Linked DNA regions of Homo sapiens. The protein of the gene in region 1 interacts with the protein of each later gene in a pairwise test. Each region holds a gene or a part of one and is shown on either strand. Other genes may lie near its edges.

What was found.
Region 2: the proteins of PTPRN (region 1) and PTPRS interact in binary tests that used the Homo sapiens proteins (3 or more experiments, as listed by UniProt).
Region 3: the proteins of PTPRN (region 1) and CCDC134 interact in binary tests that used the Homo sapiens proteins (3 or more experiments, as listed by UniProt).
Region 4: the proteins of PTPRN (region 1) and CLN8 interact in a two-hybrid assay, tested with the Homo sapiens proteins (one study listed by BioGRID).

Annotation. Positions count from the first base shown.
Region 1 is NC_000002.12:219,292,194-219,299,541, forward strand, and holds part of PTPRN (receptor-type tyrosine-protein phosphatase-like N isoform 1 precursor), read right to left. Parts: intron 7,192-7,348; coding exon 7,112-7,191; intron 6,919-7,111; coding exon 6,854-6,918; intron 5,911-6,853; coding exon 5,692-5,910; intron 5,241-5,691; coding exon 5,040-5,240; intron 4,940-5,039; coding exon 4,792-4,939; intron 4,630-4,791; coding exon 4,556-4,629; intron 4,324-4,555; coding exon 4,246-4,323; intron 4,153-4,245; coding exon 4,033-4,152; intron 2,949-4,032; coding exon 2,782-2,948; intron 2,008-2,781; exon of another isoform or gene 1,918-2,007; intron 1-1,917. UniProt on the Homo sapiens protein: Plays a role in vesicle-mediated secretory processes. Required for normal accumulation of secretory vesicles in hippocampus, pituitary and pancreatic islets.
Region 2 is NC_000019.10:5,218,674-5,226,021, forward strand, and holds part of PTPRS (receptor-type tyrosine-protein phosphatase S isoform 1 precursor), read right to left. Parts: intron 7,172-7,348; coding exon 7,054-7,171; intron 4,625-7,053; coding exon 4,016-4,624; intron 3,548-4,015; coding exon 3,450-3,547; intron 2,581-3,449; coding exon 2,327-2,580; intron 1,681-2,326; coding exon 1,587-1,680; intron 1,482-1,586; coding exon 1,266-1,481; intron 795-1,265; coding exon 637-794; intron 126-636; coding exon 114-125; intron 1-113. UniProt on the Homo sapiens protein: Cell surface receptor that binds to glycosaminoglycans, including chondroitin sulfate proteoglycans and heparan sulfate proteoglycan.
Region 3 is NC_000022.11:41,810,465-41,817,812, reverse strand, and holds part of CCDC134 (coiled-coil domain-containing protein 134 isoform 1 precursor), read right to left. Parts: intron 4,550-7,348; coding exon 4,368-4,549; intron 4,063-4,367; coding exon 3,991-4,062; intron 1-3,990. UniProt on the Homo sapiens protein: Molecular adapter required to prevent protein hyperglycosylation of HSP90B1: during translation, associates with nascent HSP90B1 and the STT3A catalytic component of the OST-A complex and tethers them to a specialized translocon that forms a microenvironment for HSP90B1 folding.
Region 4 is NC_000008.11:1,773,715-1,781,062, forward strand, and holds part of CLN8 (protein CLN8), read left to right. Parts: exon of another isoform or gene 1-1,482; intron 1,483-6,535; coding exon 6,536-6,853; 3' UTR 6,854-7,348. UniProt on the Homo sapiens protein: Could play a role in cell proliferation during neuronal differentiation and in protection against cell death.

The DNA.
Region 1 (7,348 bases):
TCTCCCTGGAGCAGTCTCACTTCAGCACAGGCATTCTGTGGCTGCGTTATATTCAGACTTGGGGTCCCCTTGGACCTCAGACCTTTCTCCACTGCCCCTGACCACAACTCAGTGAGGAGCAGGGGGCTTCTCCGTCTCTCAATGGACCCATCTAACCTGCCCTTGTCCTTTATGACCTTTCTGCTTTGGGAGTCACCTGCATACTCCTGATATCCCTGCAAGCCAGAACCAGGGAAGACCTTCTTAGGGGTTGTCAGATTGAAGTTTGGAACTTCACAGTCCTTCAGCTATAGGACCAGGTGACTTAGAATGGCTTCATAGGAGTCCACATGGTTTTCTAGCTCATTGGCTGTTACGTCAGAGGGCTAGGGTAGAAGAGTAATCACAATAGTTGTTTTTGCTCATTTAATAATGATAATAGGCAGCATCTAGAATTAACGGAGCCCTTGCTATGTATCAGGCACTTACACTAGATTTTACATACTTTATCAAATCTTGCAACAGCCCTCTAAAGCAGGGGTCCCCAATCCCTGGGCCATGGACCAGTGTCAGTCTATGGCCTGTTGGGAACCGAGCCGCATAGCAGGAGGCAAGCGAACATTACCACCTGAGCTCCGCCTCCTGTTAGATCAGCCATTGCAATAGATTCTCACAGAAGTGCGAACCCTATCGTGACCTGCACATGTGAGGGATCTAGGTTGTGAGCTCCTTATGAGAATCTAATGCCTGATGATCTGAGGGGGAACAGTTTCATCCTCAAACCACCCCCTCTCCCAGCCGTGGAAAAATTGTCTTCCACAAAACCGGTCCCTTGTGCCAAAAAGGTTGGGAACCTCTGCTCTAAAGTATGTGTAATCATCCCCATCTCACAGGTAGCGGAATGGAGGGAAGCCAAGGAACTTACTCAGGGTCACTTTCTTAGGGTCTCTTTTATTAATTTGTTTTCCTTCTAGGGGGGCTTGACCAAACTGCATTTATTTATTTATTTATTTATTTATTTATTTTGAGAGGGAGTCTGGCTCTGTTGCCCAAGTGGCAGTACAGTGGCACGGTCTCGTCTCACTGCAACTGCTGCCTCCCAGGTTTAAGAGATTCTCCTGCCTCAGCCTCCCGAGTAGCTGGGAGTACAGGCGCTCGCCACCCTGCCTGGCTAATTTTTGTATTTTTGGCAGAACAGGGTTTGACCATGTTGGCCAGTCTGGTCTTGAACTCCTGATCTCAAGTGATCCACCCACCTCGGCCTCCCAAAGTGCTGGGATTACAGGTGTGAACCACCGCGCCCGGCCCCGAACTGCATTTCTTAAGCAACAGTTTATTTGTTCTGGATGTCTAATGCCAACTGAGTTTACATAATTCCAGCCTAAAGCAATCTTTTAGCTTATCTGTGCAGCTTTAAAACAGATCCATGCACTAGTTCTACCAGGATTTTTTAAATATGGAAAAAAGGAAATAGCTCTGATACCCTGGCACTGCTTTCAAGACGCCTGTGTCTCAGGCCTCAGGGACCCCAGTTAGAAACTGCTGTCCTGAGGTTCAGAAACTATACCCATGTCCCCACCCCCAGCTCTGCTCCTCTGTCCAGTACCTAGAGACATCAGGCCAGCTTGGCAAGGGACAGAGAACCAGGAGAAGGGCGCAGTGTGGGTGGGCCCCTGCCCTTGGTAGTGGGCTTCCCAAGTACCTGTCTGGGGCTAGGAAAAGCAGGGGACGCTGGAGGGCTGACCTGTCTTGGTGTCAGTGTTGGAAAAGGGTAAGTCCCTCAGGTAGCCCCTGTCTAGTCCCCACCTGCTCCACTGAGCCCCCCAGAATCCAGAGATCCTCCCACACTCCTTTCGACAGTCTTTGCCTCTTCCCTGTACCCCTTGCTCCCAGCTCGGGGTGGTCCCCGGGCCACATGTCCTGTCTGTCCATGCAGCAGCCACACCTGCCAATGATCACTTTTGTGACTATGCAACTGGAGTGAGAATACTAGCTGCAGATCACAAAAATGACACTGGCAGCTGTGAGGGAGAGAGAGAAAGAGGGAAGAAGGGAGAGGGAAGGACAGAGAGAGGAAAGACAGGCAGCGGGAGGGAGAGGGAGAGACGGACAGAGCAGCAGAGAGAAACTGGCAGACAGGGGAAGGAGGTGGAGAAAAACAGGGGAGAGGGCAGAGAGAAAGGAAGAGAAGCGCGGAGAGGGAGAAATGGAGAGAGAGGGAAAGGGTGAGGCAGAGACAGAGTGAGAGAGAGATGGGGAGAGAGAAGAGGAAGAAAGAGGAAAGGAAAAAGAATGAAAGACACAGAAAAAAGAGGCGAAGAGACGGAGAGGGATGAAGGAGGGACGGAGAGGGATGAAGGAGGGGAGACGGGCAGGCGGGAGTGAGAGACGGAGGGGGCAGCAAGGCAGCGCAGTGCAGGGCCTGGAGACAGCGGGGCAGGAGGGAACTGGAAGGAGAAAGGAAGCAGGGGTCCTGGAGAGGGAGGGGAGACAGAAAGCAGAGGGCCCTCTGGAGGAAGCAGGTGGAGGAGAAGGAGCCAGTCCCGGGAGCGTGAGAGGGAGGGAGCAGAGCAGCAGCGGCCGGCGCGGAGCTGGCCCACGCGGGTGGTGGAGGCTCGGGGAAGGGCACAGCCGGAGCCTCAGGCCTGCTTTTAGGGGTGGGAGCGTGGGGTCTGGAGCGGGCGGCCAGAAGTCAGAGGCCGAGGCTCCAGGCCCGACCCGGGGCTCCAGGCCGAGCGGCGGGCGGACCCCGGCTCCGCCCCCGCCCATGCGGTCCCTCCAGGCGGGGGCGCCCGCGCTCACCTGCGGAAGTCCAGCAGGGGCCGCGTGGAGGCCGGTGTGCCCTCTGCCGGCCAGCTGAGGAAGTGGAACTGCGTGAGCGTGCGCGTCTCCTGGGTCTGCACGTTCTTCAGGTAGAAGCTCCGCACCAGAAAGTCCTCGCACCAGATGTGCTCCGACACCAGGTTCACCTGCCCGGCAGGGGCCCAGGCCTGAGCGCCGCGGGCTGCCCCAGTCCCCGCGTTGCGCGCGCTCTCCTCGCGACCTTCTCGGTCTCTCCAACCACCGCCCGGCCTCCCAGGCCGGTTCAAATTCTAAGTTCCAGCGGTCCCAGGAACCCTGGCTGCCTGTCACTTATCTACTGCTCAGGACCACTAGTAGCTTTTCCACCCAGACACAGCTATTGTGAGCCTCTCGAGGTCGGAGTTTCTCCTCCCTCTTCCTCGCAGGGTCTACCAGAGTATCGGTGCTACACGTGCCATAAACTTGGATGAAATTCTGTAGTATTCTTACTGGATTTTTTTCGTTAACCACCAGCAGGACCAATGAAAGGCTTTTTAAAAAAACCGTCATGTGCTTATTTGGTGGGGAAAAAATTACTATTCAGGCTCATCTGGTGATGAGAAGCTTCTGCTGTGTTCTTAAGGTTTTTTTGTCTTAGTGGGGACTCACGTTCTCCCATTTGTCTGAAATATTTCTCTTTCCCCTGCTTGGCCTCTGCCCAGTTCCCCCTCCTTCTCCACCCCTCCACCTAGTCTCTCTCCTAATGAAAAAGTTTGTTTCTCTTTTACATTAGTAACGTATGTAACGGGTGGTATGTCTTTCTTTGCTTTGGCCACCAGGAAACTCAGAGCTAAATTAGGTTCAATTAACGTAGGTCTTAATCTCAGTCTTTGGGTATCCTTATCTTCCCTGTCTAATATACACTTAGCTGTTAGCTTCTTACCTCGGTTTTGGTGGTTTTATAGTTTGATCTCTGTGCCTTTATCATAAGTCTCTATGAACGCTTTTTGACTCTAGACAGGACACACACACACACACACACACACACACATGTATGTTCTGTAAACAGGACACACACATGTATATATGTGAATATATGGGTATGCATATATGTGTTTATATATATTCATATATGTATGAATCATGAGCAGGGCCAATAAAAGCCTTTTTAAAAAGACTGTTGAGTGCTCATTTGGTGAAGAAAACGTTACGAAAAGGCCATCATCTACTCTTCCCACATCCATTGTCCCCTTGCTGTGGGGCCCTGCTGACCTCATATACGTGGTAGAGGGAGGCACCCTCATCTGGCCAGTAGCGGTCACACTGCTTGACACCATCCTCCACCAGCGGGGTCAGCATGACGATGACGGTGCAGCCGCTCTCCCACACCATCTAGGGACAGAGACCCAGTTGAGCTCCACTCTAACCTCCCTGGGACCTCGTGGCCACAAGGACCCCAGCGAAGCCCTCCCTTTAAGAGCCCACCTGCCAGAAGTCTGCGATGGTATGGGACAGCGGGCCCTGCGTGGCTATGTAGGCTGGCATCCGAGGGTCATGCTCAATCTGGAGGCAGGGAAGATACACCATGAGCCAGTGTGGGAAATGCCACTATGGACAGGCGTGGTCAGAGCAAGTGGGTCAGGGTCTGAGAAGGCTGGCAGTTCCCCCTTGCTAGGATATCAGGCCCCACCACTCCAGGGGGTTGGTGGGGTGGCAGGTGACCACGGGGAAATGGAGTGCATAGGGCCAGGATAATGATGGGGCAGAGGTGGGGGCTGGAGTCAGGGCCACTCACAATGGGGCTGGCGTTGATGTAATCGCTCCGAGAAGGGCTGCTCTCCACCTTCAGTTTTATGCGGGCATGGTCATCTGCACAGACCCGACACCCCACCCCAGATGGCCCTCTGGTCATTGGCATCGCGGGACCTCTGCCACTCAGCCTGAGCCAGAAGCCCAACCCCTTACCCCAAGCCCTCCAGACCTCGCAGCAGAGAGAGGGCTGGGCCAGGTGGGCCAGCAGGGTTCACTCACAGGGCAGGAAGTCAGGATGCCGGTTCTTTTTGATGTTGCCCTCCCCCTGCGCGGTGGCACAGGTGTTTGGCTCTGCTTGGTAGGCACAGAGGGCCTGCCACTCCTTGGCAAGGCGGTCCCGGTTCCGCAGGTGATCCTCCATGTATGCCTGTGGGGGCACCACGGTCTGGCTCTGGCCCACACAGCCAGCCTGGCCTCTCTCACCATCCCATTCCTTCACCCACTCTGGGCCCAGGCCCTGTCCTGACCAGAATCATGTGTCCCGTGGAGATGTCCATGTTGGCTTGGGCCGGCTCCTCGCACCAGGACGGGGTGCTGCTGTGGGAGCTGGGGCTGGCCTGGGCTGCGTCGCTGAACTGGGAGGACACACTGCTCACCCGTGAAGGCTCCGGTGGACCCTCTGCCCGGTTGAACAAGGACTTCGTGGCCATGTGCTGGCGGCACAGGTCCTGTGGAGGAAGAATCAGGTGAGGTCCAAGAGTCCCCTGAAACTTTTCAACAGGGCCCTGGGTTCAACTCTGGGCTCCTAGGCTTGCCCTTGACTGATTTTCAGTGGAACTCAGCTCCTCTGGGGTATGGTCTTCTGCCTGGCCCTGATCCTTTCCAGGGCTGTTTTGCTTGGGTGGTGCTTATGTCAACCTCAGACATGACAGAGTGGAATCCCAGAGCCCCAGAAGCACAGCACCAAGAAGAACCTTAGGCACTGTATGCTCCCAATTCCCATGCGTTCATAAAGGCCCCTACCATACTCCCTCCCACTGGGGCTTCTCCAGCCTCCACTGGACCTTCCCAGGGATGAGGGCTCACTCCCCATTCAGTTCCGACCCTTAGTCCACGCAAGACCCAGACTCCCAGGCCCCTTGCATTTCCTTTGCTCAATCAGCTTCTGGGGCTGCACACCTGGTACTCAAAGGTAGTGTCACCATGGGCCCCCTCAGGCCCCAGGGCTGCCAGGCGCTCCTTGTCTTGCTGCCGCGCATGCTGCCGCACACACAGAGCCACAGCCAGAGCCACCAGCAGCCCAGCCACACCTGCCAGGGCCACCAGAGTGAGCAGCACTGAGCGCATGGGTGAGGTGCTGTGCGCAGTTTGGGGAAGGACTGCAGCTGCCTCCTCCCTCTGTGGGAACAAGGCTAGAATCAAGGGAGGCAGTGGCATAGGGAGGTTTCAGAGCTGCTCCTCACCCCGGTCCCATGCCACACCCCCTGTTAGGACATCTCCTGGGGCAAAGCTGGGAGATTAGGGGTATGGTGGTACAGCCAGATGGGCTCAGATTCTCCTTCTCAATCCCCATCGGATCAACTCAACCACAGTGCAGTGCCAGAGGCCCCCACCAGGAGTGTTTGCATTTAAAAACGGACAGAGAACCCTAGGAATTGAATTGTAGAACGTGAGGCATCAGTGTTGGATGCAGAAGACAAAGGTATTTTGAGTATAGGCCGGGCGTGGTGGCTCACACCTGTAATCTCAGCACTTTGGGGGGCCAAAGGTTGGCGGATCACCTGAGATCGGGAGTTCGAGACCAGCCTGGCCAACATGGTGAAACCCCATCTCTACTAAAAATACAAAAAAAAATTTAGCCGGGTGTGGTGGCAGGCACCTGTAATCCCAGCTACTTGGGAGGCTGAGGCAGGAGAATCGCTTGAACCTGGCAGGTGGAGGTTGCAGTGAGCCGAGATCGAGCCACTGCACTCCAGCCTGGACAGCAAGAGTGAAACTCTGTCTCAGACAAACAAACAAAACATATTTTGAGTATAATGTCCTTTCTGTGCAAGGTGTTCCCTTGGAATTTGGAGACTGCGCTCCAGCAGACTAAGGGCGGCTCAACTAGTTCTCAGGCCTTTTTACTACAGAGGGCTGGTCCTGCAGGGAGGGGACACCTACGCCATCTGCTGGTGAGAAAGAGAACTGCGGGGAGGGGCTGCTTGGGCGAAGGCCGCCTCCAGCCAGCCGTGCCTACGGACACGTTTCGGCTCCAGTTCTCCCCTCTGGTTTGCCTCCAGCTCTTGCGGACAACATCAGCCCTCTGGGGACTTGGACTGATTCTCCAGTTAGCGCATACCTGTCCCACTCCTGTCTGCAAGATTTGGAGCCCTGTCTGTGCTTCCAGTTCAGACTTCACCAGCCCTGCAGGGAGGACAAAGGTCAGGCTTGCTCCAGCCCCATGTGGTCTCCATCCTCTGTCTTGCTCTGCCAAGCAGCAGGCAGGGCCCATGTGGGCTGGGAACATTTCAAGGGGGCATCAGCAACAGGCCTGGATATATCCTCTTAGGAGTGGGGCTGGGGCCAAGCCTGGGATTGAGGTCGCAGAGATATTTACCTGCTTGTTGGGTCACATCAGCCAAAGACAGGTTCTGCTCATTGTGCCGGATGCGGAAGGTGAGGGCTGGTCCCACCACACTGCCAGATAGGAGCTATGTTACTGCCTTCTCCACCCCAGACCGCAGACTTCAAAAAAGAGGCCAGCTCTGGCCCTCTCCCCGTTAGAGGATGGGGCTGGAGCAGATCGGGGATGCCCTACAGGGGCATCTTAGGCAAGGAAGATGCTGGGTGGGGC
Region 2 (7,348 bases), on another chromosome or scaffold:
TGTACAAGCTGTGGGGGCAGCCGGGCATCCCCTCTCCTGTGGGCACACTATCAGCCCATTCCCTGTCCTCTTCCTCTTGCCTGAAGCCTCCACGGGGGAGGGCTGGTTCTTACCTGTCGGGTTTGCTGTTCCCGAAAGCAGACACAGGTGAGAAGGGGGAAAAAAAGAAGAAAGGTGAGGGTGTGCCGGCCATCAAGGGCTTGTTCTGTGACTCTCAGTGCCTTCCTTAACCTCTGTGAGCTTTGGTCTCCTCTGGAAAATGGTGCTCATATTTCCTGTTTGTCCCCCTGCCTATCGACACCACAAGGAGGCTTATCTCAGCCCTGGGATGTGCCCCATGGGGCCACTACAATTGCTATCCTCATTGAACTGGACACAGGCAGCCTCTACCCCAAATCTTGCTGAGTTGAAGATAGGGGTTAAGAGGAGAAGCCAAGCCACTGGCCTGCTTTGAGCCCTAGCTCTGCCATTCCCATGCTGTGTGACCTTGATCAAGTGGCTTAACCTCTCTGAACTTCGGTTTCCCCATGTGTACAACAGAGACCTTTAGTGATGATTCTCTGAGACAACTCCTCCCTCCTTTTCCAGGAAGCCCTCCCTGCTGTCAAGTCAAGTCGGGGAGGACATGGGGCTTACTTCTTGTAGAGCAGGATAGCAATGACAATGCAGATTATGAAGACCACGGCCAGCACAGGCCCGATCACCCAGATAAGCCCCTCCTCGCCATCCACGATGGGCTGGGGGTCCGGGTTATCCAGCTGGAAGGGGTCTGAGAAGGGACTGGCTGCAAAGGTCTGCAGGGAAAGGAGGGGGGTCTCCATCAGTGTCCACCCTCCTTGTAGTGGCCAGATGGGTCTTTCTCAAACATGAACCTACGTTTCTCCCCCGCTCTAGATCCTCCTATATTCCTAGAACCTTGACCCTGGTGGCCTATGTGACCTGGTCCCTGCCAATCTTTGCTCTCCCCATTCCCTTCTCTGCTCCAGCCACTCTCCTTTCTGTACCTCCAGACCTTTGCACATGCAAATCCTGGGATGCTTTTTCTTTGTTGAACTCCTACTCACCCCTCAACGCCCCAGCTCCAAGGTCTCTTCCTCTAAGAAACCTTCGTTTCAGGATCCCTCCGCTCCCAAGTCTTCCCCTCTGCCCAGCTCTGACCACAGGGAGCTGCCTGTGACTGACCACAGAGGTCAGGGCCCTGGGGAATGGGGTCTGCCTCATTCAGAGGTGTGTCTGGATGTGGGCGGACACCATTCAGGACTTACAGGCTCGCTCTTCTGAAGCACGGCAAGCACGAAGAGGACATAGCGGTGGCCGGGCTCCAGGCCCCGGTTATCGAAGCCGCCATACTGCTTCTGGTCGCCGGGATGGAACGTGGGTGGCAGCACAGAGAAGCGAGCTGCAATATAGGGCCGGGGCACCTCCAGCTGACGCGAGTGCCGCAGGCTGCGCCTCTGTAGCCGTGAGATGTCCTGGATGAGCTGCGGGAACAGAGTCATGGGTGGCTCAGAGCTCAGCTGGGAGCAACAGAGCACGTGAAAACTGGAATGCATCTGGGCCCTGCGGGTTGGGCCCCAGGCCCTCACCTCTTCCAGATCCATGTCCTCTGGGCTACCCAGCGGGGTCAGGAATTGGCCTCCACGAGACTTGCGCAGTGGCACCATCACAATGAAATAGCTCCTGTAGGGAGATGGGAAAGAGTCAGAGGGGCTGTCGATAGGGATGACCAAGGGATGCTTCATGGGGGCAAACGGGGGAAGCCGTTTCTCTGAGTCTTCCCTTCTGTTCATACAATGAGCCTATTCCCCTATGCCCCATCCACAAACGCCACAGTTGCTGACTCAGGCCTCCAGGCCTTGGATGATGCTGTACTTTCTGCGTAGAAGGCTTACTTCATGTAATGCTCATTGTTAAACTCCTATACATCCTTCAAAGCTCCAGCTTCAATGCCCACATAACCTTGTAGCCCTTAAATCTTCTCTGCCTCTGAGGCAGAGTGCTCCTCTCCCCACTGGGGACTCTCAGCTTTGCCTCCCCACTAGTTGGGAAGCCCAGAACCAAATCCTTTCAGGGGCCCTAGTAATACCCAGTGGAGGGTCAGGCATATGGGGTATCAGGAAATGCTAGAAGAGCAGACACAGGACACATTTAGTGACAATGACCCATGAGAAGCATTGAATCTTGGATGACCCCATGAACTAGGGCTGATAGGGTCTGTGTTTCATAGGCAAGGAAATTGAGGCACAGAGAGGGCACGTGGCTTGCCCCAGCCATATAGTAGGCTGATGGGGGTGACAAGGAACCCGGAGCATGGGGGTGAGCATACTGGACAGGCACGGGGCTCTGGCCGTCAGGAAGATACACCATGATGAAGCCGTCAGCATCAGGCTTGGGGGCGACGCTGGGCTTGCCGTTGAGCAGGTTGAAGGCAGTCCAGGCGGTGACCGTCTGCTGGAGGCCGCCCAGGCTGCTGCCGCGATTGGTCAGCACAAAGTTGTAGAAGGTGTGGGGCTTGAGGTGCGTGATGAGCTTCTTGGTGGTACGGCCATCCACATCCAGTGTGAGCCCATTGTACTGGATCTGCGGACCAGGGCTAGCTCAGCAGGGCCTGGTGGGCTCATGCCCATGGACTGAGCCCCAGCTCCAGGATGAGTCCCCCACCCTGACTGAGCCCTGATCCCACTGAATCCTGCCCTAGGCAGAAATCTAACACTGACTGATCCCTGATCCCAGGCTGAGTCCCCAACTCTGACTGAGCCCCAACCTCACTGAACCCTGACCCCAGACTGTGCCTAAATTCCAGCTGAGTCCTGATCCTAGGTAGAAGCCCACTTTGACTGAGCCCTGATCCCATGCTGAATTCCCAGTCCCGACTGAGCCCCAATCCCACTGAACCCTGAACCCAGACTGATCCTGAATTCCAGCTGAGCGCTGACCCTAGGTGGAAACCCACCTCTGAGACCTGATCCTAGACTGATTCCTGATCTCAGACTGAACCTCAATCCCAGGCTGACCCCCGATCCCAGACTTGGCACCAACTCCAGACTAAACTCTGACCTCAGGCTAAGTACCAACTCTGAGTCCCAATCCTGATTATGCCTCAGTCCCAGCTAAGCCATGATCTAAGGCTGAGCCCCAACTCTGATTTCCAATATGGACTAAATCTTAATCCCAGACTGAACCTCAATCCCAGCTAAGCCACAATCCAAGGCTGAGCCCAACATTGATCCCCAATATTGACTGAACCTCAGTTCCAGCTGATCTCCAATCCTAGGCTGGGCCCCAAGTCTGATTCCCAGTATTGACTAAGCCTCAATCCTAGCTGAGACCCATCTCTGACTGAGCCCTGATCCCTCACTTCACACCAACTCCAAACTGAGCCTTAAGCCCTGCTGAACTACAACCCCTGACCCTGCCTGCCTGCCTGCCTGCTGGCTGGGCAGTCGCACCTTGTAGGGTGTGGGTGAGTTGTAGTTGTCAGGGAACTCCCAGCTGAGCAGAACTGATGTCTTCATGATCATTTTCACCTTGAAGTTCTTGGGCGAGACTGCCGGGGAGGCGGCCGAGCAGGGAGAGAGCAGAAGAGAGGCCCCATGAGTGCCTGGCACTGGGTGGCGTGAAGCGGGGTGGGGTGGGGCGGCCCAGGCGCTCCCTGTCGTCCGCTGTGCCCATGCCCACGGCCTTCCTGCCTGGCCCTGGCCCGGCCCTGCCCTGTCCTGTCCCAAGTCCCTGCTTCGGGAGACGGCACGGGTGCAGAGGCTGCAGAAAGAAGGTGGAGGAGGAGGAAGAGGGGGGAGGGGAGCAAGGGGAGGGGGCAGTGGTGGGGGGCGGTGGTGCCACCGAGGCACGTCCCACCTTTGCCAACGCCGGAGCCTCGGGGTCCGGACTTGCCTTGAGTGACCACGAGGAAGCAGAAAAGTGAGCACTTACCTGGGCAGGGGAGAGGGAGGGGGCTGGGGTGGGGGTGGGCGCAAGGCCCGGTCCGGCTCTGGTGCAGGGGTCGCCGCGCGCCTACCTTGGTCCCGCAGGAACGTCCGGTAGCGGACGGGGGGGCTGAAGGGGCCAGGGCCCCGGCGCGTGTGGGCTCGCACTTGGAGGTCATAGGCCGTGTCGGGCTTCAGGCCCTGCAGCGTGAGCGCGTTCTCCGCGCCCGGCTCAGCCGCTGCCGGCAGCTCAGTCTCTCGGGCAGGGCCCAGGGCACCGGCCTCCCGCACGGCCACCGTGTATTTGACGATGGCCCCGTTGCGCTCGGCGGGCACGGGTGGCAGCCAGCGGAGAAGGACGGTCCCGGCCGAGGCGTTGCCGGCCGCCTCCAGAATCTGCGGGTGGCCACGGGGCGTGTCCTCCGGGATGCTCAGGACCTCGGCTGCCTCCTCGCCCAGGCCGCCGCGGCTCCGGGCCGCAAGCCGGAACACATACGTGGCCCCCTTGTGCACGCCTGATGCCGTGTAGCGGTCCTCGGAGGGCGGGAACTCCAGGGTGGCCAGGGGCGTCGAGTCCTCACGGCCAAACTGCAGGCGGTAGCCCAGCACCTGGTCCTCCGCGGTGCCAGCCGGGGGCTCCCAGCGTGCCAGCAGGCTGCCCTCGGGGGTCTGCTGCACCGACAGGGTTGGGCGGCCCAGCACTGCGGGGATACGGGGCAGGTGTCAGGGTCCCAGCGCCATCCGCCAGCCCAGAGGCACAAGGTGGGGTTGTATTTTTAATTCTTTTCCTTCAATATAACATTTTTTTGAGTTGGGGGGGGTCTTACTCTGTTGCCCAGCCTGGAGTGCAATGGTGAGATCACGGCTCACTGCAGCCTCGAACTCCTGGGCTCAAGTGAGCTTCCTGCCTCGGCCTCCCAAAGTGCTAGGATTATAAGGCCACTGCACCCAGCTGCGGTTGTGATTTTTTTTTTTTTTTTTTTTGAGACAGAATCTTGCTCTGTTGCCCAGGCTGAAGTGCAGTAGCCCCATCTCGGCTCACTACAAGCTCTGCCTCCCGGGTTCAAGGGATTCTCCTGCCTCAGCCTCCCGAGCAGCTGGGATTACAGGTACACACCACCACGCCTGGGTAATTTTGTATTTTTAGTAGAGATGGGGTTTCGCCATATTGGCCAGGCTGGTCTTGAACTCCTGACCTCAGGTGATCCACCCGCCTCAGCCTCCCAAAGTGCTGGGATTACAGGTGTGAGCCACCGTGCCCAGCCTGGGGTTGTGATTTTTAAAAGTGGATCTCAAGGCTGGGTGTGGTGGCTCACATCTGTAAGTAATCCCAGCACTTTGGGAGGCTGAGATGGGCAGATCATTTCAGGTCAGGAGTTCGAGACCAGCCTGGCCAACATGGTGAAACCCTGTCTCTACTAAAAATACAAAAATGAGCCGGGGGTGGTGGTGCACGCCTGTAATCCCAGCTACTCAGGAGGCTGTGGCAGGAAAATCACTTGAACCCAGGAGGCAGAGGTTGCAGGGAGCCAAGATCGTGCCACTGCACTCCAGCCCGGGCAACAGAGCAAGACTCCGTCTTAAAAATAAAAGTAGGTCTCAAGAAAGCCTCACTTAAGAAGCAAAGACTTGAAAGAAGAAAGAGAGGGAACCACGAGAAGATCTGGGGGAATCGTGCTCCAGGAAGAGGGAACGGCCCATGCAAAGGTGTAGAGCCGGCACTGGGCTAGGGGCGCATAAAGCACAGCAAGGAAGTGAGGACTCAGAGAACCCCTCCTCCTTCCATTAATAAGGCAACCATCTCCTGCCTTGTTGATTTGGCCCTTGCTCAATGCAGGCACCTGACCAATACCCATGGGACATAAAGAAATCCAAAATCCGCCCCTGCTCTTTGTTTCGCACAGCCTGGGTAGTAATCAATGTGCCGAGAGAGGTTCTGGGATCAGGCAAAGAAGGGGGAAAGCTGGGCTGTATACATGAAAATGGACTTCTCTACTGCAGGACTTATCAGGGCCTTGAATGGACTGCTATGAATACCCAGGGTGGTGGGGAGAGCAGCGTATGCAGTGGTTTCTGCTTAGCAAACACAGCTCTAATACAATGTCCCTGAGAGAGGAGGGAAGTGCCCTGCTGGCTAGAAGAAGGGAGGGAGAGATCACAGGAGGCTGCTTGGAGGAGGTGGCGTTAGAGCTGGATGCTGGAGGACGCAGACAAGGTGCGTGAAGGGAATAGTGTGGACAAGGGCAGGGGCTGTGTCCAGCTGGGAGGCCTGAAAGGTGGGGTACACAGTGGTGTGGCTACAAGGGTCCCCGAGGAGAGGGTGGGTGTGGGGACTGGGATGAAGGCCACAGAAGTCAGTCGATTGTTCCTGAAACACCCGAGCTTGTTCCGCCCACCACCACCACCACCACGCCCCACCCCCCAAGTCTTTTTCTGGGCTGTGCCCTCCGCCCGGTGTACCCTCCCCTTACATCTTCACGGCAGCCTCTTTTTCTTAATTCAGCTCCATTTTGGCTGGAAAAAAAAGCCAGCCCCTTGGGGACGATGGAAGGGACAATGGAGGGGCTAGAAGGGGAAACTGAGGCAGGGCCACCAAGAGAAAGGTGGCTTCCTGGTGCAGTAGGGGAAGACAGGTGCACCACCCTGAAATAACAACCTAGCCGGGGCGACCAGAGCCTGGATGGGGGAAGCACAGGAGACTAGGGGGCCCAGAAGGATCAAGATTATGGGATGAGGCAATCAGGGAAGGCTTTCCAGGGCCAGGTGTACCTTGAGCTGAGACCTAAAGGCAGAAGAGGAGCCAGCCAGCAGGGGAAGGGGTATCCTGGCAGAGGGAACAGCCCAAGTAAAGGTTGAGAGGGCAAAGGGGTCAGAGGTGGCTGTTAACTGTTTCTGTCTGGTGGGAGCCGGGGGGACAGGAAGTGAGTGACAAAGGAGGAGGCAGGGGCGGGGGGGGCCAAGCTGGGCCCTGGACACCCACCTGAGCAGCCCTCACACCTTTGTCTCACTGTTCCAGCTGCCTGGTGCACCCTCTGCCTGCCCTTGTGAGCTCAAGGACTCTGGAGTCACGCTCTGGTGCCAGTGGGGGCAAAGGGGCTGTTGGTGGGTGGGAGGAGGGCGGGTTGCATACCTGCTCCCTTGGTCACAACCACCTTGGGTTTGCTGCGAGCGCCATCGCCCTTCATGGTGTAGGCGGCTACCGTGATGGAGTACGCGGTCTCAGGCTGCAAGTTTGTGATGACCATCTCCTGCAGGCACGGCTGGGGGTCAGCACGACGGCTGGGGCTGGGAGCAGCCCCACCCACCCCCACTCCCCGTGCTGAGAACAAGCAAGGAGGATGCAGGGCCCGGATCAGGGGTGGAGACGTGCACATGAGCTCATGCAGAGACCACGACACGTGGCATGGCCATGCTCAGAGGGTACA
Region 3 (7,348 bases), on another chromosome or scaffold:
GAGATTACAAACTGGCAGATCAAAGATACCTACCCCTCTCTTTTTATTTATTTATTTATTTATTTATTTATTTATTTATTTAAGACAGAGTCTTGCTCTGTTGCCCAGGCTGGAGTGCAGTGGTGCAATCTCACCTCACTGCAACCTCTGCCTCCCGGGTTCAAGCGATTCTCCTGCCTCAGCCTCCCGAGTAGCTGGGACTACAGGCATGCGTCACCTCGCCCGGCTAATTTTTGTATTTTTAGTAGAGACAGGGTTTCACCATGTTGGCCAGGATGGTCTCAAATTTCTGACCTCAGGCAATCCGCCTGCCTCGGTCCCTAAGTGCTGGGATTACAGGTGTGAGCCACCATGCCTGGCGATACCTACCCCTCACCCCTCTTTAGGGCCACAGACTATGGAAACAAATTGTGGTGACAAACTAGACAGCCTGGCTCACTCGTTTAGATGCCCATCATAAAGCTCAATCTCTGAAAAGACCAAATGGAGTCAAACTGCTGATCAAGCCTACTTCATCCAGATCACTGCCACTGCCACCTAAACATATCATTCTACTTGGCATGGTAACATACCCACTACCAAGGAGTGGCACAAAACAGAGGACTGTATATTTCTGGTTCAACTACCTGAGTCTCTGGTTGGAATGGTACAGCCTGAGATTGTTAGGATTGTGACCACTTGGCTGAGTATCCTGCTTGCTGATTTCCCTGCAGTGGCCCATGTGGGTAAAGAGAAGAGATATAACAGGTCTCTATACATCTGTAAAAATGCCCTGGTCCCATTCATACCTGACATTTCTGAATGAAAGATCTAAGTGATAGTAGGCAACAACTGGAGAAAAAGTGAAACTATAGATGCTGGCATAGGACATATGCTTTTTGTTTTGTTTTGTTTTTGTGAGACAGTCTCACTCAGTCGCCAGGCTGGAGTGCAGTGGTGCGATCTTGGCTCACTGCAGTCTCCGCCTCCTGGGTTCAAGCAATTCTCCTGCCTCAGCCTCCTGAGTAGCCAGGACTCCAGGCATGCGCCACCACACCCGGATAATTTTTGTATTTTTAGTAGAGACGGGGTTTCACCATGTTGGCCAGGATAGTCTTGATTTTCCTGACCTCATGATCCGCCCACCTCGGTCTCCCAAGGACACATGGATTTTATAGCAATAATCCTGCCACCTGGGGAGGATATACCTTAGATCCCAGAAAGTGCAGGGAACAATTAATGTTCTCTTTATCCCTTAGATCCATCACTGCCACCTGGCAAAACAATCCTAGGGTCTGCCCAAGCCCAGTGGCAGCTGCAGCTGTCAATATGGCCAACTGTTGGGTGTCTCATTTCCATCCACATGATAGGAAAACTCACATGGACACGTCAGTACTGAGCTATTCTGCTGTGTCTAATGCCATCAAAGGTAGTTCTCAACAGTGACCTTGTGCAGACACACCAGCCAGCACAATTTTGTTTCAACCTGACAGATACAAATTCATCTGCTTTTCCTGATGTCTGAGTAGCCTTGGATTATACCATGTAGGCAACTGAGGCTGAAGCTCCACAGTGACACTGCCCTCAGGCTCAACTAAACATTGTTCTGGTGACTCAAATCAAGCGTAACATGTGGGAGAGAATGGGTCATGGAATGTCTCCTTATGGGGGCATGAGGGTTGCTTGGGTCCATCTATTGCCCCCTGTACTTATTGGCAGTAACATCAAAGATTGGCAGGTCAATCTAAACTCTCTTATGTGGGTGGTCGTGGATAACAGATTGGTCTTAGACAATATCCTGATTATCCAAAATGAGACTTACTGGTCCTCCAGGACCTTCACAGCTGGTTGAGTCCAGGACCCTGTTCAATATTGCAGGTTAGGGGCCAGACACAGTGACTCACACCTATAATCCCAACACTTTGGGAGGCTGAGACAGGAAGATGGCTTGAGCCCAGGAGTTTGAGATCACCCTAGGCAGCACAGCAAGAACCTGTCTCTGAAAAAAATAATAAATTAATTAGCCAGGAATGGTGTCGCACAGGCCTGTCGTCCCAGCTACTCAGGAGGCTGAGGTGGGAGGTCTGTTTGAGCCCAGGAGTTCAAGGTTACAGTAAGCTAGGTGGGTGACAGAGCTTGGGTGACAGAGCAAGACCCTGTCTATAAAAAAAATAATAATAATGTAGGTTGGCCTTACCCTGCTATTCAGAATATAGTTGATAGTAATCTTAATTAAATGAAGTATGAGACTAATTGACAGATTTGGTCCTAGCCTCTATCAGTCAGATCAATCAGACTGAATAGCACATTCGTGTGAAAATTTGAGTTAGGCCGGGTGCGGTGGCTCACGCTTGTAATCCAAGCACTTTGGGAGGCCGAGGCGGGTGGATCACGCGGTCAGGAGATCAAGACCATCCTGGCTAACATGGTGAAACCCCGTCTCTACTAAAAATACAAAAAATTAGCCAGGTGTGGTGGCGGGCGCCTGTAGTCCCAGCTACTGGGGAGGCTGAGGCAGGAGAATGGCGTGAACCCAGGAGGCAGAACTTGCAGTGAGCCGAGATCGCGCCACTGTACTCCAGCCTGGGCGACAGAACGAGACTACATCTCAAAAAAAAAAAAAAAAAAAGAAAAGAAAAGAAAATTTGAGTTAAACCAAGCCATGGAGGGCTTGGGCTTGGGGCAGACTGTTGGGGTGGCAATCCATCATGGCCCTGAGCATCCCTGCATATTCTTGCAGGGCACACCAAAGATACAAAGCCCTAACCACTCTTTACCTGGGCCATGTCTTAGGATTGTGTTTGCAGAGAGCAACCTCGAACGGTGTGGTGATGTCTCTTCCCAAAGAGCACATTTGCTGCGGTTCACTATAAAAATCATGAATTTCTCCAGCTTGGCAGTTCTCAGCTATGATGCACACCCCCTGCATGCACAGCGCCCACCTGGCCCCTCTGTGTCACCTCCGTGGGAGTTAGGGAACAAGATGAACCAACACAACCAGGCCAACAGTCTAGCTAGTGCCTTTGCTGTAATACAGTCCAATGTCTCTGACCTATCAGTGTCCATGAAACAGTAGCAGGCTAGCTTGTTGGCCTGGAGGCAGAATTAAATCCTAGACCCTTGAGACACCCAACACCCCTCCCGACACCAGGGTTTGACAAGTCCAGTCCTCCAGCCACCACAGCCCTTCCTTCCTGCCCCTCCTAGCCCTGTCACTTCCAATCCCTTCCTCCATCTATCGTATCTGTCCCCCCTTTTTTTTTTTTGATACGGAGTTTCACTCATGTTGCCCAGGCTGGAGTGCAATGGCACGATCTCAGCTCACTGCAACCTCCACTTTCCGGGTTCAAGCGATTCTCCTGCCTCAGTCTCCTGAATAGCTAGGATTACAGGCATGCACCACCACGCCTGGCCAGTTTTTTGTATTTTTAGTAAAGACAGAGTTTCACCATATTGGCCAGGCTAGTCTCGAACTCCTGACCTCAGGTGATCCACCCGCCTCGGCCTCCCAAAGTGCTGGAATTACAGATGTGAGCCACCGTGCCCGGCCTGTCCTCATCTTTTATCCCAAACTTGGTCTCCAGCTCTCAAAGCCCACCTCAGCCCCCTGGAACCCCTGGAATGAGAGCATGTACAGGAGTGCGGGATGGAAGCCCAGTTGGTGCTCAGAGGTTCAAAGGCAGGGAAGAGCATGGCCTGATCTCCCTAGCTACCCTGATATCCACCTGAAGTGGGATGCCTATTTTGTGCTGGGATGGGTTTGTTCATAGCCTCCTAACTACCCCCCATAACTGGAGTTCACATGCTGTGAACAGACAGGGAGCCTGAGGCTAAGAGGGGAGCAATGACTTGCCCACAGGCTCCAATGAGTCAGTGATATCTTCTGGACCCAGGCCCAGGCTGCCTGGCTCCAAGTCCAAAGCCACCCAAGGTCCCCAGCCCCTGCAGGCCTCGGTGTCCTATGGCCCAGCAGAGGCAAAGCAGACACAGGCATAGGCCCTGGCAGCTCACCTCTGTGCGGTCGATTTTAAATGGGTTCTGGAAGTTGGAGTCTTTCTCACTGATCCCCAGCTCCTGGGCCATCTGCAGATGAAGAAACACTAGTCATCATCTGCCTTCTCCTGAGTCCTGCTCACCAGAGAGTCATTCCTTCCATGCTGGGACCCAGACTCCTGACTTGGGCAGATGTGGGCCACATGATGATCCCATGGGAACTGGGTCAGCACAGAATCCCTTGAAATGGGGCCTCTGTGGCCCAAGATACCCTGAAGCTCCACAAAGAAAATGTAACCAAGCACTGACGTTCAGGCCCAACTGAAGGCAGATGTGAGGATCCTAGTCCACTACCCGACAGAGGGCTCCCGGGCCACCTCCACCCCAGTCCTTACCAGGCTGAGGATGGGCGAGTGGGGCCCCTGGTTGAAGACGCCTGTCTGGTTGCAGAAACTGATACCCCAGCGGATGAGGAGGTTCCAGTTGGAGTTGTGGTCAAAGTAATAGTGCACAATCCTCGGGAAGCGCAGCACCACATCGCCGAAGAAGGCCGTGTTCTCCACCACGTGGGAGAAAGCTGGCGAGAGGACCCTGATGAGTGGCCAGGGCAGATGCTCTCCTGGCTGCCTCACTGGCCCCTGGCATCCTCTAGAGAACAGAGACATCCACCAAACCCACCAAGCAAGGAAGGAACAGTGCCTACTGACCACAGGCTGCCAATCACATGTACAGTGCGAACTAGGGCCTTACATCCACCAGCTCACTGAGTCCTCATAACCACTTTTAGAGGGAGATGTGGCTGCTGTTCCCATTTTACAGATGGGAAACTGAGGCTCAGCAGCTAGTGAGTAGCAAATCTGGGCTGCAAACCCAGGTCCGTCAGCCCAAAGGCACATCTTGCTGCTTAGAAGACACATTTGCTGTGGGGACCAGAGAAGTGAGTGTTGTTCTGCACACAGATGCTGATGTATCACATGAGACTTTACTGGGCTTGACCCCCCCACCGACATGTTATCCAAATGTCCAGTGCTGGCCCTGGTGTTAACACAACTAGAGTGTCTGTGAGACCTCAGGTATCTTAGGATGGCCACACAACAGGCCAGCATTTTTCTTTTTTAATATTCTTTCCATTTTATTTCATTTTAAGTGCTTAAGTTCTTATTTTGAATGAATGAATGAATATATTTAATTAATTAATTAATTACTTTAGAGGTGAGGTCTCACTTTGTTGCCCAGGCTGATCTCAAACTCCTGGCCTCAAGTGATCCTCCTACCTCGGCCTTCTAAAGCTCTGGGATTATAGGCATGAGCCACTGCACTCGGCCTGAAATTATCTTGGACTTAACATAACATAACATAAAATTCATTCACTTGGCTTCCTCTAATGTTACCATCCTTTTTTTTTTTTTTTTTTTTTTGGAGACGGAGTCTCGCTTTCTTGTCCAGGCTGGAGTGCAGTGGCATGATTTTGGCTCACTGCAACCTCCGCCTCGCGGGTTCAAGTGATTCTCCTGCCTCAGCCTCCCGAGTAGCTGGGATTACAGGTGCATGCCACCACACCCGGCTACTTTTTTATATTTTTGGTAGAGATGGGGTTTCACCGTGTTTGGCCAGGCTGGTCTCAAACTCGAACTCAAGTAATCCGCCTGCCTCGGCTTCCCAAAGTGCTGGGATTACAGGAGTAAGCCACCTGCTTGGCCTAGTGTTGTCATCTTATATAACCAACATACAACTATCTAAACCAGGAAATTAACAGCAATACAATACTACCAACTAACCTAACAGACTTAATTTGAATTTTCTGTTTTCCTACTAATGTGCTTCTACTGGTCAACAGGTCAATTTAGACTGAGCTTTGTTAGTGTGCTGTAGGAAAACAGCCTGCTGCAAGACAAGCGTGGCACCATCTTGAAGCCATAATGGCTGAGGTTTGACCCGTGCACACCAAGGTATTCTGCAGCAAGGTCTTTAAACAATGCCGGTAGCATAGATAACCCCTCAAAAAGATGATTATTTAACTTCCCCAGTGGTCACAAGTTTCACACGAAAGCCTGAGATGTCACCAGCTGCATGTTTTAACCTAAAAGCTTGCTGTATAAACAATACTTTTGGCCGGGTGTGGTAACTCACCCCTGTAATCCCAGCACTTTGGGAGTCCACATGGCGGGTAGATCACTTGACATCAAAAGTTCGAGACCAGCCCGGCCAACATGGCAAAACCCCATCTCTACTAAAAATACAAAAATTAGCCGGGCCTGGGGGCGCATGTCTCTAATTCCAGCTACTCGGGAGGCTGAGGCACAAGAATCACTTGAACCTGGGAGGCAGAGGTTGCAGTGAACTGAGATTGTGTCACTGCACTCCAGCCTGGGTGATGGAGTAAGACTGTCTCAAAAGAAAAAAAAGAAAAGAATAGTTTCTGTACAAGCATTGTCGTCTGCAAAACAACAAGTAAAGAATACTTTCTGGAGGTTGGGTGTAGAGACCACCATCTCATTTCTGCCTGAGACATGGTTCTGTTCAGAAGTCCCTAATAAATGTTTCTTTCTGAGAAACTGGCGCTCTCAGCTCCCTTGGCCTTGGAGGGTAGGTTTGCACAGACCTGCTCACCAAGGAACATGTGTCCATCATGGTAGCAAGTCCCCCAGATCCAGGTTAGCCAAAAGTGTAACTGTGTAAACAGGTCTAAGCAGTCCCTATTGGAGCCAGCCTGTCAGAAAGGGCCCAGGCAGCCCTCACCAGCACTAAGAGGCCACGCAGAAAGATAAGTAGACTCCAAAGATATGCCAGGGTGGGTCTGAGACATGTCAGGCAGGGACCCCGGGGCTTCAGAATAATCTTGAACCTCAAAGAACTCAGGAAGTCAGCCTGATTCAGAGGGAAGAGCCAAGGCAAATCACTTGTCCTCTTTCATATAGAAAGTAGAGAGAACAGTGTCTTCCCCCAGAGTTATGGTGGAGATTTGAGTTCATGGTTGTAAAGTATCTACTATTTAATATATAAGAGCTGTCCGCATCCTCTCAGTGTAATCTAAGAAATGCTATTGTGGCCGGGTGCAGTGGCTCTCGCCTGTAATCCCAGCGCTTTGGGAGGCCGAGGTGGGCGGATCATGAGGTCAAGAGATCGAGACCATCCTGGCCAACATGGTGAAACCTCGTCTCTATTAAGAATACAAAAACTAGCTGGGTGTGGCGGCATGTGCCTGTAGTCCCAGCTACTTGGGAGGCTGAGGCAGGAGAATCACTTGTACGCGGGAAGTGGAGGTTGCAGTGAGCCGAGATCACACCACTGTACTCCAGCCTGGCGACAGAGTGAGACTCTGTCTCAAAAAAAAAAAAAAAAAAAAAAAAAGAAATGCTATTGCTAAAAAGTAGCC
Region 4 (7,348 bases), on another chromosome or scaffold:
GTGGAGAGGTGTGTGCTGGAGGAAGAGGCCTTGGCCTGTGCTCCGCATTGCCTACTCCTCTCACCTGGAAACACCGGACTTCAGGAGTCACTCGGCTGTGGCAGAAAATAAAGTTCTTGAAAGGAAAGCAGAGGCGCTCACTCACATCGATGCCCTAAACATCAATACCACATCAATGTCCCAAGTGGTAAATAGTGACTAAATTATTAATACATCCCACAAGATGGTGTGCTTGAGGTCATTAGTGTATTTTGAGAAATAGATTAATAGTTATCTTGTATTTTATTTTTATTACAAGTTCTTTAAAAACAACAAGAAAGACGTGAGTCTTTCTGTCTCTCCAGTCCTCAGGGGAAAGCAGTGTTGGATTTCTCCAGGGTTTTATCTGTGCTTCTCCTGGAGCCAGGTGTGGGGACAGCGTCTCCAGCAGTTCTCCCTCCCCTGGTGTGGTGGTGGAGCCCAGCCTCCAGGAGGACAGACTCAGCGAGATTTTATTTTGAAGTTTGCACATTCTCTAAAGCTTTTAGGGTGCTGTTTGTGTAGAATGGAGAAAGGGTTATTTAAGTATTTACTTCTAACCCTGCTCATGTTAACTGTATAAAGCCAACAGACCCTAATAAGAGAAAATTATAACCTAAATTAATATAGCTCAGGGCCAGTATGTCTACATAGTTCTATTTTGCTCTAGTTGAAATACTAATAAATGCAGTAAGAAAACACTATGTCTAAAATGTTGAAATTCTTTGAAATTCTTTTAAAGCTGATAGATTCTTGCATAGTAGTAGGGCATGAGGATTCAACATTTCTCCCCCATCAAGGTCTGATTTGATCAGAACTAAAGGATGTAAAGACAAAATATTACCATCAATTTAGGATGGGGGTCTAAGTCAAGCACAGTGGCTTATTCTTCGTATTTCTGTCTTAGATTTGGTTCTACTATTTATCCACAGACTCACTAGTTCATAATACAAATGAGGTGATATAAAAGCACTGTCAGGCCAAGTGCGGTGGCTCACACCTGTAATCCCAGCACTTTGGGAGGCCAAGGCAGGCAGATCACTTGAGCCCGGGAGCTCAAGACCAGCAACATGGCAAAACCTCGTCTCCACAAAAAATACAAACATTAACTGGTCATAGTGGCACACGTCTGTAGTACCAGCCAATTGGGAGGCTAAGGTGGGAGGATCGCCTGGGAGTTCAAGGTTACAGTGAGCTGTGATTACGCCACTGCACTCCAGCCTGGGCAAGAGTGAGACCCTATCTCAAACAAAAACACAACCCGCTGTCAGTTTTTATATATTTTGTATATATACATGTGTGTGTATATATATGTATGTATACAGTCGACCTTCTGTATCCATGGGTTCTGTGTCTGGATTCAACCAACTGTGGATCAAAAATATTTGGGAAAAATTTAAAATAATATAACAATAAAAAATATAACAAATAAATACCAATAAAATGTAACAATTTTATATAGCATTTACATTGTATTAGGTATTATAAGTAATCTACAGATGATTTAAGGAGTAAGGGACAGTGTGCTTAGGTTATATGCACATACAAAGCCATTTTATATAAGGGACTTGAGCATCCGTGGCTTTGGGTATCTGCAGGGAGCCCAGGAACCAGTCCCCCAAGGATACTGAGGGTGACTGTATATTTAAGTATAGATGTAACTGCCGGGCTCCAGAGCTTTGCATGTGTTATGTCACAGATTTTGTTCCTGTAGATTTTGCTACTCTTCTCAAAGCCTTTGGTGACTTTGACTACAAAAATTTTAGTGCCTTAGTAAAACCAAAGAACTCTTCGGTTCTCAAGCTTTGAGTTTTCTAAACTTAAGGTAGTGATTGCATTCTGATATTACTATTGGTAATTTAAGATGACTACTTTCAGTAAGTGAGGAAAATGGTGGAGGAGAACTTTTTGTGAATTGTGAGGGAATGGTGAGTGAATAAAGACTGAGCTCGCGAGAGTCTGGGGCTGAGTGCACAGTGTACTGTACAGTTCATCACTGTGTGGGGCCTTCCAGCTACTGTAGAGGATTCTGATGTTCAGAACATCGACTCTTCAGTGTTTTGTCTTCAGACACACACTCTTTTCACTCCTGTTGATACTGTACGCTCTCTTGAGGAGCAATGAGCACTCTTGCAGGCCCTGTGCCAGGTGCCGGGTCATAACAAAGACGATTCTCAGTCTTCCGTAAGTGGGAATCTGTGGGAGGCACATATGCATGTGGTGCGGCACACACGACAGAAGATTCTGGAAGCTGAATCTGTGAGGGGCACACGTGTGTGGTGGTGCTCCAGCACACACGATAGAAGATTCTGCAAGCTGAGTCTGTGAGGGGCACACGTGGGTGGTGGTGCTCCACACACATGATGACAGAAGATTCTGGAAGCTGGAATCTGTGAGGGGCACACATGCGTGGCAGTGCCCCGGCACACAAATGATGACAAAAGATTTTGGAAGCTGGAATCTGTCAGGGGGATACTTGCATGTGACTGTGCTTCTGTTCACAGAGAAGGTTCTGGAAGCTGGAATCTGTGAGGGGCAGCTGTATGTGTGGTAATGCTCCAGTACACATGTGATGACAGAAGGTTCTGGAAGGTGAACTCTGTGAGGGTTGGGTATGCATGTGGCCCCGCTCCTGTACACACACATGTGATAACAGAAGGTTCTGGAAGGTGAAATCTGTGAGGGTTGGATATGCATGTGGCCCTGCTCCAATATACACACATGATGATAGAAGGTTCTGGAAGGTGAAATCTGTGCGGGCAGATGTGTGTGTGGCCTTGCTCCAGTACACACACACACGTGATGACAGAAGGTTCTGGAATCTGGACTCTGTGAGGGGCGCACGTTTGTGTAGCGATGCTGCAGTCCATTGCGTGGCAGAAGGAGCATTGTCTTTCCTTTGGTTTTTGTCAGCTCTTTGTTTACTTGATAAATGCTTGAGTGTCTTCAGTTTGATAACTAGCAAAGGAAAACAGCGTGTGAGACTTCTGGTGTCCTTGCGGCTCCATGCATAGGTCTGTGCCTGACTGCAGTGCACCCACATGTTCACTCGAACAGGGGTACTTGGATTGTCTTAGCCACGCTGTTCATTTGGCCTCAGACTGAGTCCTACTGAAGTCCCATCATCAGTGGAAAGGGCTTGTGAGCTGAGTTTGTCCACGCAGCAGAAGGGTGGGCAGCAGTCTGGATGGTTTACACAGACACGGTGAGAGACGTTACCCGGACGCAAAAGAGTACACAGCGTGTGATACCGTTCCATGTACAGTCATACGTTGCTTAACGACGGGCTGTGTTCTGAGAAATGTGTCCTTAGGCTATTTTGTCATCGAGTGGCCGTCATAGAGTACCTTTCTACATGTCTAAGCCAACTCCACACTCGGCTCTATGCGACAAAGCCCATTGTTCCCAGGCTGCATACCTGTACAGCATATGGCTGTACTGAATACTGTAGGCAAGTGTAACACAACTGTAAATATTTGTGTATCTAAACATACCTAAACATAGAAAGGTATAGTAAAAATACCATGTTAAAGATGAAAAATGGCACACCTGTGCAGGGCGTTCACTGGGAATGGAGCTTGCAGGACTGGAAGCTGCTCTGCGAGAGTCACAATGAGTGGTGAGTGTGAGGGCCTAGAACGTCACTGTACTCTCCTATAGACTTTATGAACTCTGTGTACTTAAGCAATGCTAAATTTATATAAAAAAATTTCTTTAATCATAAAGTAACCTTAACTTACTGTAACATTTTTACTTTATAAATTTTTAATTTTTTAAACTTTTCCACTCTTTTGTAATAACACTTAGCTTAAAACACAAATACATTGTGTGTATATATATATATTCTTTATACCCTTATTCTGTAAGCTTTTCTTAATTTTCGAAACTTTTTTTTAAATTGTTGAAATCTAAGATGCAAATACACATTCATCCAGCCCTGCACAGGGTCAGGATCATCCATATCACTGTCTTCCACCTCCACACCTTGTCCCACTGGAGAGACTTCAGGGGCAGTAACAGACATGGGGCTGCTACCTCCTATGGTGACAGTGCCTTCTTCTGGACCCTCCTGAAAGACCTGCCTGGGGCTGTTTATAGTTAACTTTATTTTCATCAGAGAAGGAGTACACTCCAAGATAATGATAAAAAGTATAGTATAGTAAAATAGTAAATGATAGGAATTGTTCAGCTCCATTATAATCTTGTGTGGAACCACTGTCTATACACTGTGCGTTGTTGACTGAAATAAAGGCGCTGAGCCCTGGGCACTGCTGTAGGTGCAGTTGTCCAGCCTCACCTGGGTGTGGGCCCACCTGGTACTGCCGCTATGGGTCTGAGGGAGGTGTGAGATCGAAAACTTGCCTGTGCCAAAGTCCAGCATTGTCCTTCACCACTTATGGACCTGGTGGTTGTGGCCAGTTGTCAGAGTGACTATACTGTTTACCACCCAGACAAGGATGTCAGGGACTGCCCCAGGCAAACCAGGATCTGCAGTCACCCCAGGGTCTGAGAACCAGCTATATTTGTGACTTTTGCTTTGGACATATCAAAAACCTCCAAGAACTTGTAGCCTAACTCTATAATTTCACAAGTAAGAAATAAGTTATAGTATTAACTCTTCACATTTCATTTCAATCCCATGTCACTTAACCATCCGGAACTGACAGCCATAGGTTCTTCTGGTCTGTGGGTTTCTCCCCTGTCCCATTCAGTTTGGAGGCTCCAGGCTTGTTTTGGATCCTGCTTCCTCTGCTCTTCTTCCTGAGTGTTCACTGTGCCTCAGCAATGCTGAGTGCGGTGAAGCATGTGGTCCTGGCCCACCTTGAGGTGGCCCCAACCACAGGTGGGAGTGTTTCATTTGCACCTGGGGTTGGGGTGAACTAAGTGCTTGGTATGTTTGTGGAAAGCCGCACTGGCGGTCTCTGAAGGCGTGTGTGTGCATGAGGGTGCCGTGATGCACATGCGAGAGCCCTGAGGTCCCCTCTGAGACCTGGGAAGGACTCCCGTGACAGTTGTATGAGGCAGGCTGGGTTACTCCATTCCGCTGGCCTTTCTCTTCTAATTGTCCTCACATTAATTTTTTCAGTCCAGACTTAGAATAGATGCTCTTTGACTCAGGATGGGGTTACATCCCAATAAGCCCACCATAAGTTAAAAATATTGTGTCAGAAATGTGCAGCCTCCCGAACATCATGGTATATAGCCTGGCCTGCCTTTAACATGCCCAGAAGACTTGGATCAGCCTACGTTTGAGCAAAATCATATAGCACAAAGCCTGTTTTACAACAGAATGCTGAACAGCTCATGTAATTCAGTGAATGCTCTACTGAAAGTTGAAACAATGGTTGTGTGGGTACTTGAAGTACAGTTTCTACTGAGTGTGTATCATCTTTGCACCATAAAATCAAACAATTGTAAGTCAAACCATTGTGAGTAGGGGACTGTCTATAACAGCTAATATACCTGGGGCTTTAAATATTCAAAAACACCAGAAGAACGTGTTAGAATTTTTTATTTTATTTTATTTTTTTGAGACAGTCTTGCTCTTTCTCCAGACTAGATTGCAGTGGCACGATCTCAGCTCAGTGCAGTCTCTGCCTCCCAGGTTCAAATGATTCTCATGACTCAGCTTCCCAAATTAGCTGGGATTACATGGTGCGCCACCATGCCTGGCTAATTTTTTTGTATTTTTATTAGAAATGGGGCTTCGCCATGTTGGCCAGGCTGGTCTCAAACTTCTGACTTCAAGTGATCTACCCACTTCGGCCTCCCAAAGTGCTGGGATTATAGGCGTGAGCCACCGTGCCTGGCCCAAGTTAGAATATTTTGCCGGGGAGGTATACTGTATTAGTCAGCTCAGGCTGCCACAGCAGACTGCCATAGACTAGGCAGCTGGAATAGCAGAAATTCCTTTCTCACAGTTTTGGAGGCTGCAAGTCTGAGATCAAGGCACCAGCAGATTCATGTCTGGTGAAGACCCACTTCCTGGTTTACATGGCCACCTTCTGGCTGTGTCCTAGCATGGAGGAGGGGAAGGCTCTGGTCTCTTTCTCTTCTTATGACACTAATCTCATCATGGGGCCTTACCCCCATGACCTCATCACTTCCCAGGGTCTAGGTATGGGAGCTTGATATACCTGTGTCTGGTTTTGCCAAATAAGTATTGTTTATTTACTTAATATGAGAAAATTCAAGATAAAACAAAGATTGAAGGGATACTGAAAGAAAGGTTGAATTTATCATAGCTTTAGGGAGCAGAAGCCAAAGAGCAAGAGGAGCAGGAAAACAGCATGAGCGGGCAAGGGTCAGCCCTGCTGGCCCAGGTGCGCCCACAGAGCTGGTGGCCTCCTTTCAGAATGAAGTCCCAATGAGAGCAGAGCCCTGGGGAGGAAATTCTTTTGCTTTGAAATGAATTTGTTTTGTTTGGTAAGTAAGGTAGCAAATACCTTTTTGTGATGTGAAGAATGAATTTTGGCAGTTTCGCATTGACTTGTGCATTTGTCTTCTCTCCATGCAGGCGGGCTGGTCCGAGTCTCTGTTTTGGAAGCTCAACCAGTGGCTGATGATTCACATGTTTCACTGCCGCATGGTTCTAACCTACCACATGTGGTGGGTGTGTTTCTGGCACTGGGACGGCCTGGTCAGCAGCCTGTATCTGCCTCATTTGACACTGTTCCTTGTCGGACTGGCTCTGCTTACGCTAATCATTAATCCATATTGGACCCATAAGAAGACTCAGCAGCTTCTCAATCCGGTGGACTGGAACTTCGCACAGCCAGAAGCCAAGAGCAGGCCAGAAGGCAACGGGCAGCTGCTGCGGAAGAAGAGGCCATAGCTGCTCCAGCCGGGGCTCCGGGGCGGCAGCAGAGCTGGCACACCGATTCTGGGAAGCCCCGCGAATGATGGCTTTTGAATTAATGAGGCAGTGAATGTTTTGTGTTTACTTCTAAGGGAAATACTAACTTTCTTTCGCATTAGTATTAATTTTGAAGTAGCTACAAAGTATTTTTAAGAAATTATAATTTTATGACTGTCTGGCAGGCTCTGTCAGTTTAGCCGCGCCGGACCGTGTCAAGCATCTAGGAGAGGAGTCCATGGTGTCCAGGCATCGGGGCGTCACACCTGTTGAGGAGTGGGGTGGCTTTGAATGCTGGAAATGGCTTCATAGTGAAGTGCCTCCCACAGGGCGGGTGGGTCAGCGTTGACTCTTTCCAGCTGCACACTCATATGCCGTGTGTCTTATTCAGAAGTCACATTCTTTTCAGTTGGAGAGAATTGGGCTAAGATAGAAAATAACATGATTTGTTCCTTATTAAAGCTTCCCAGCGTA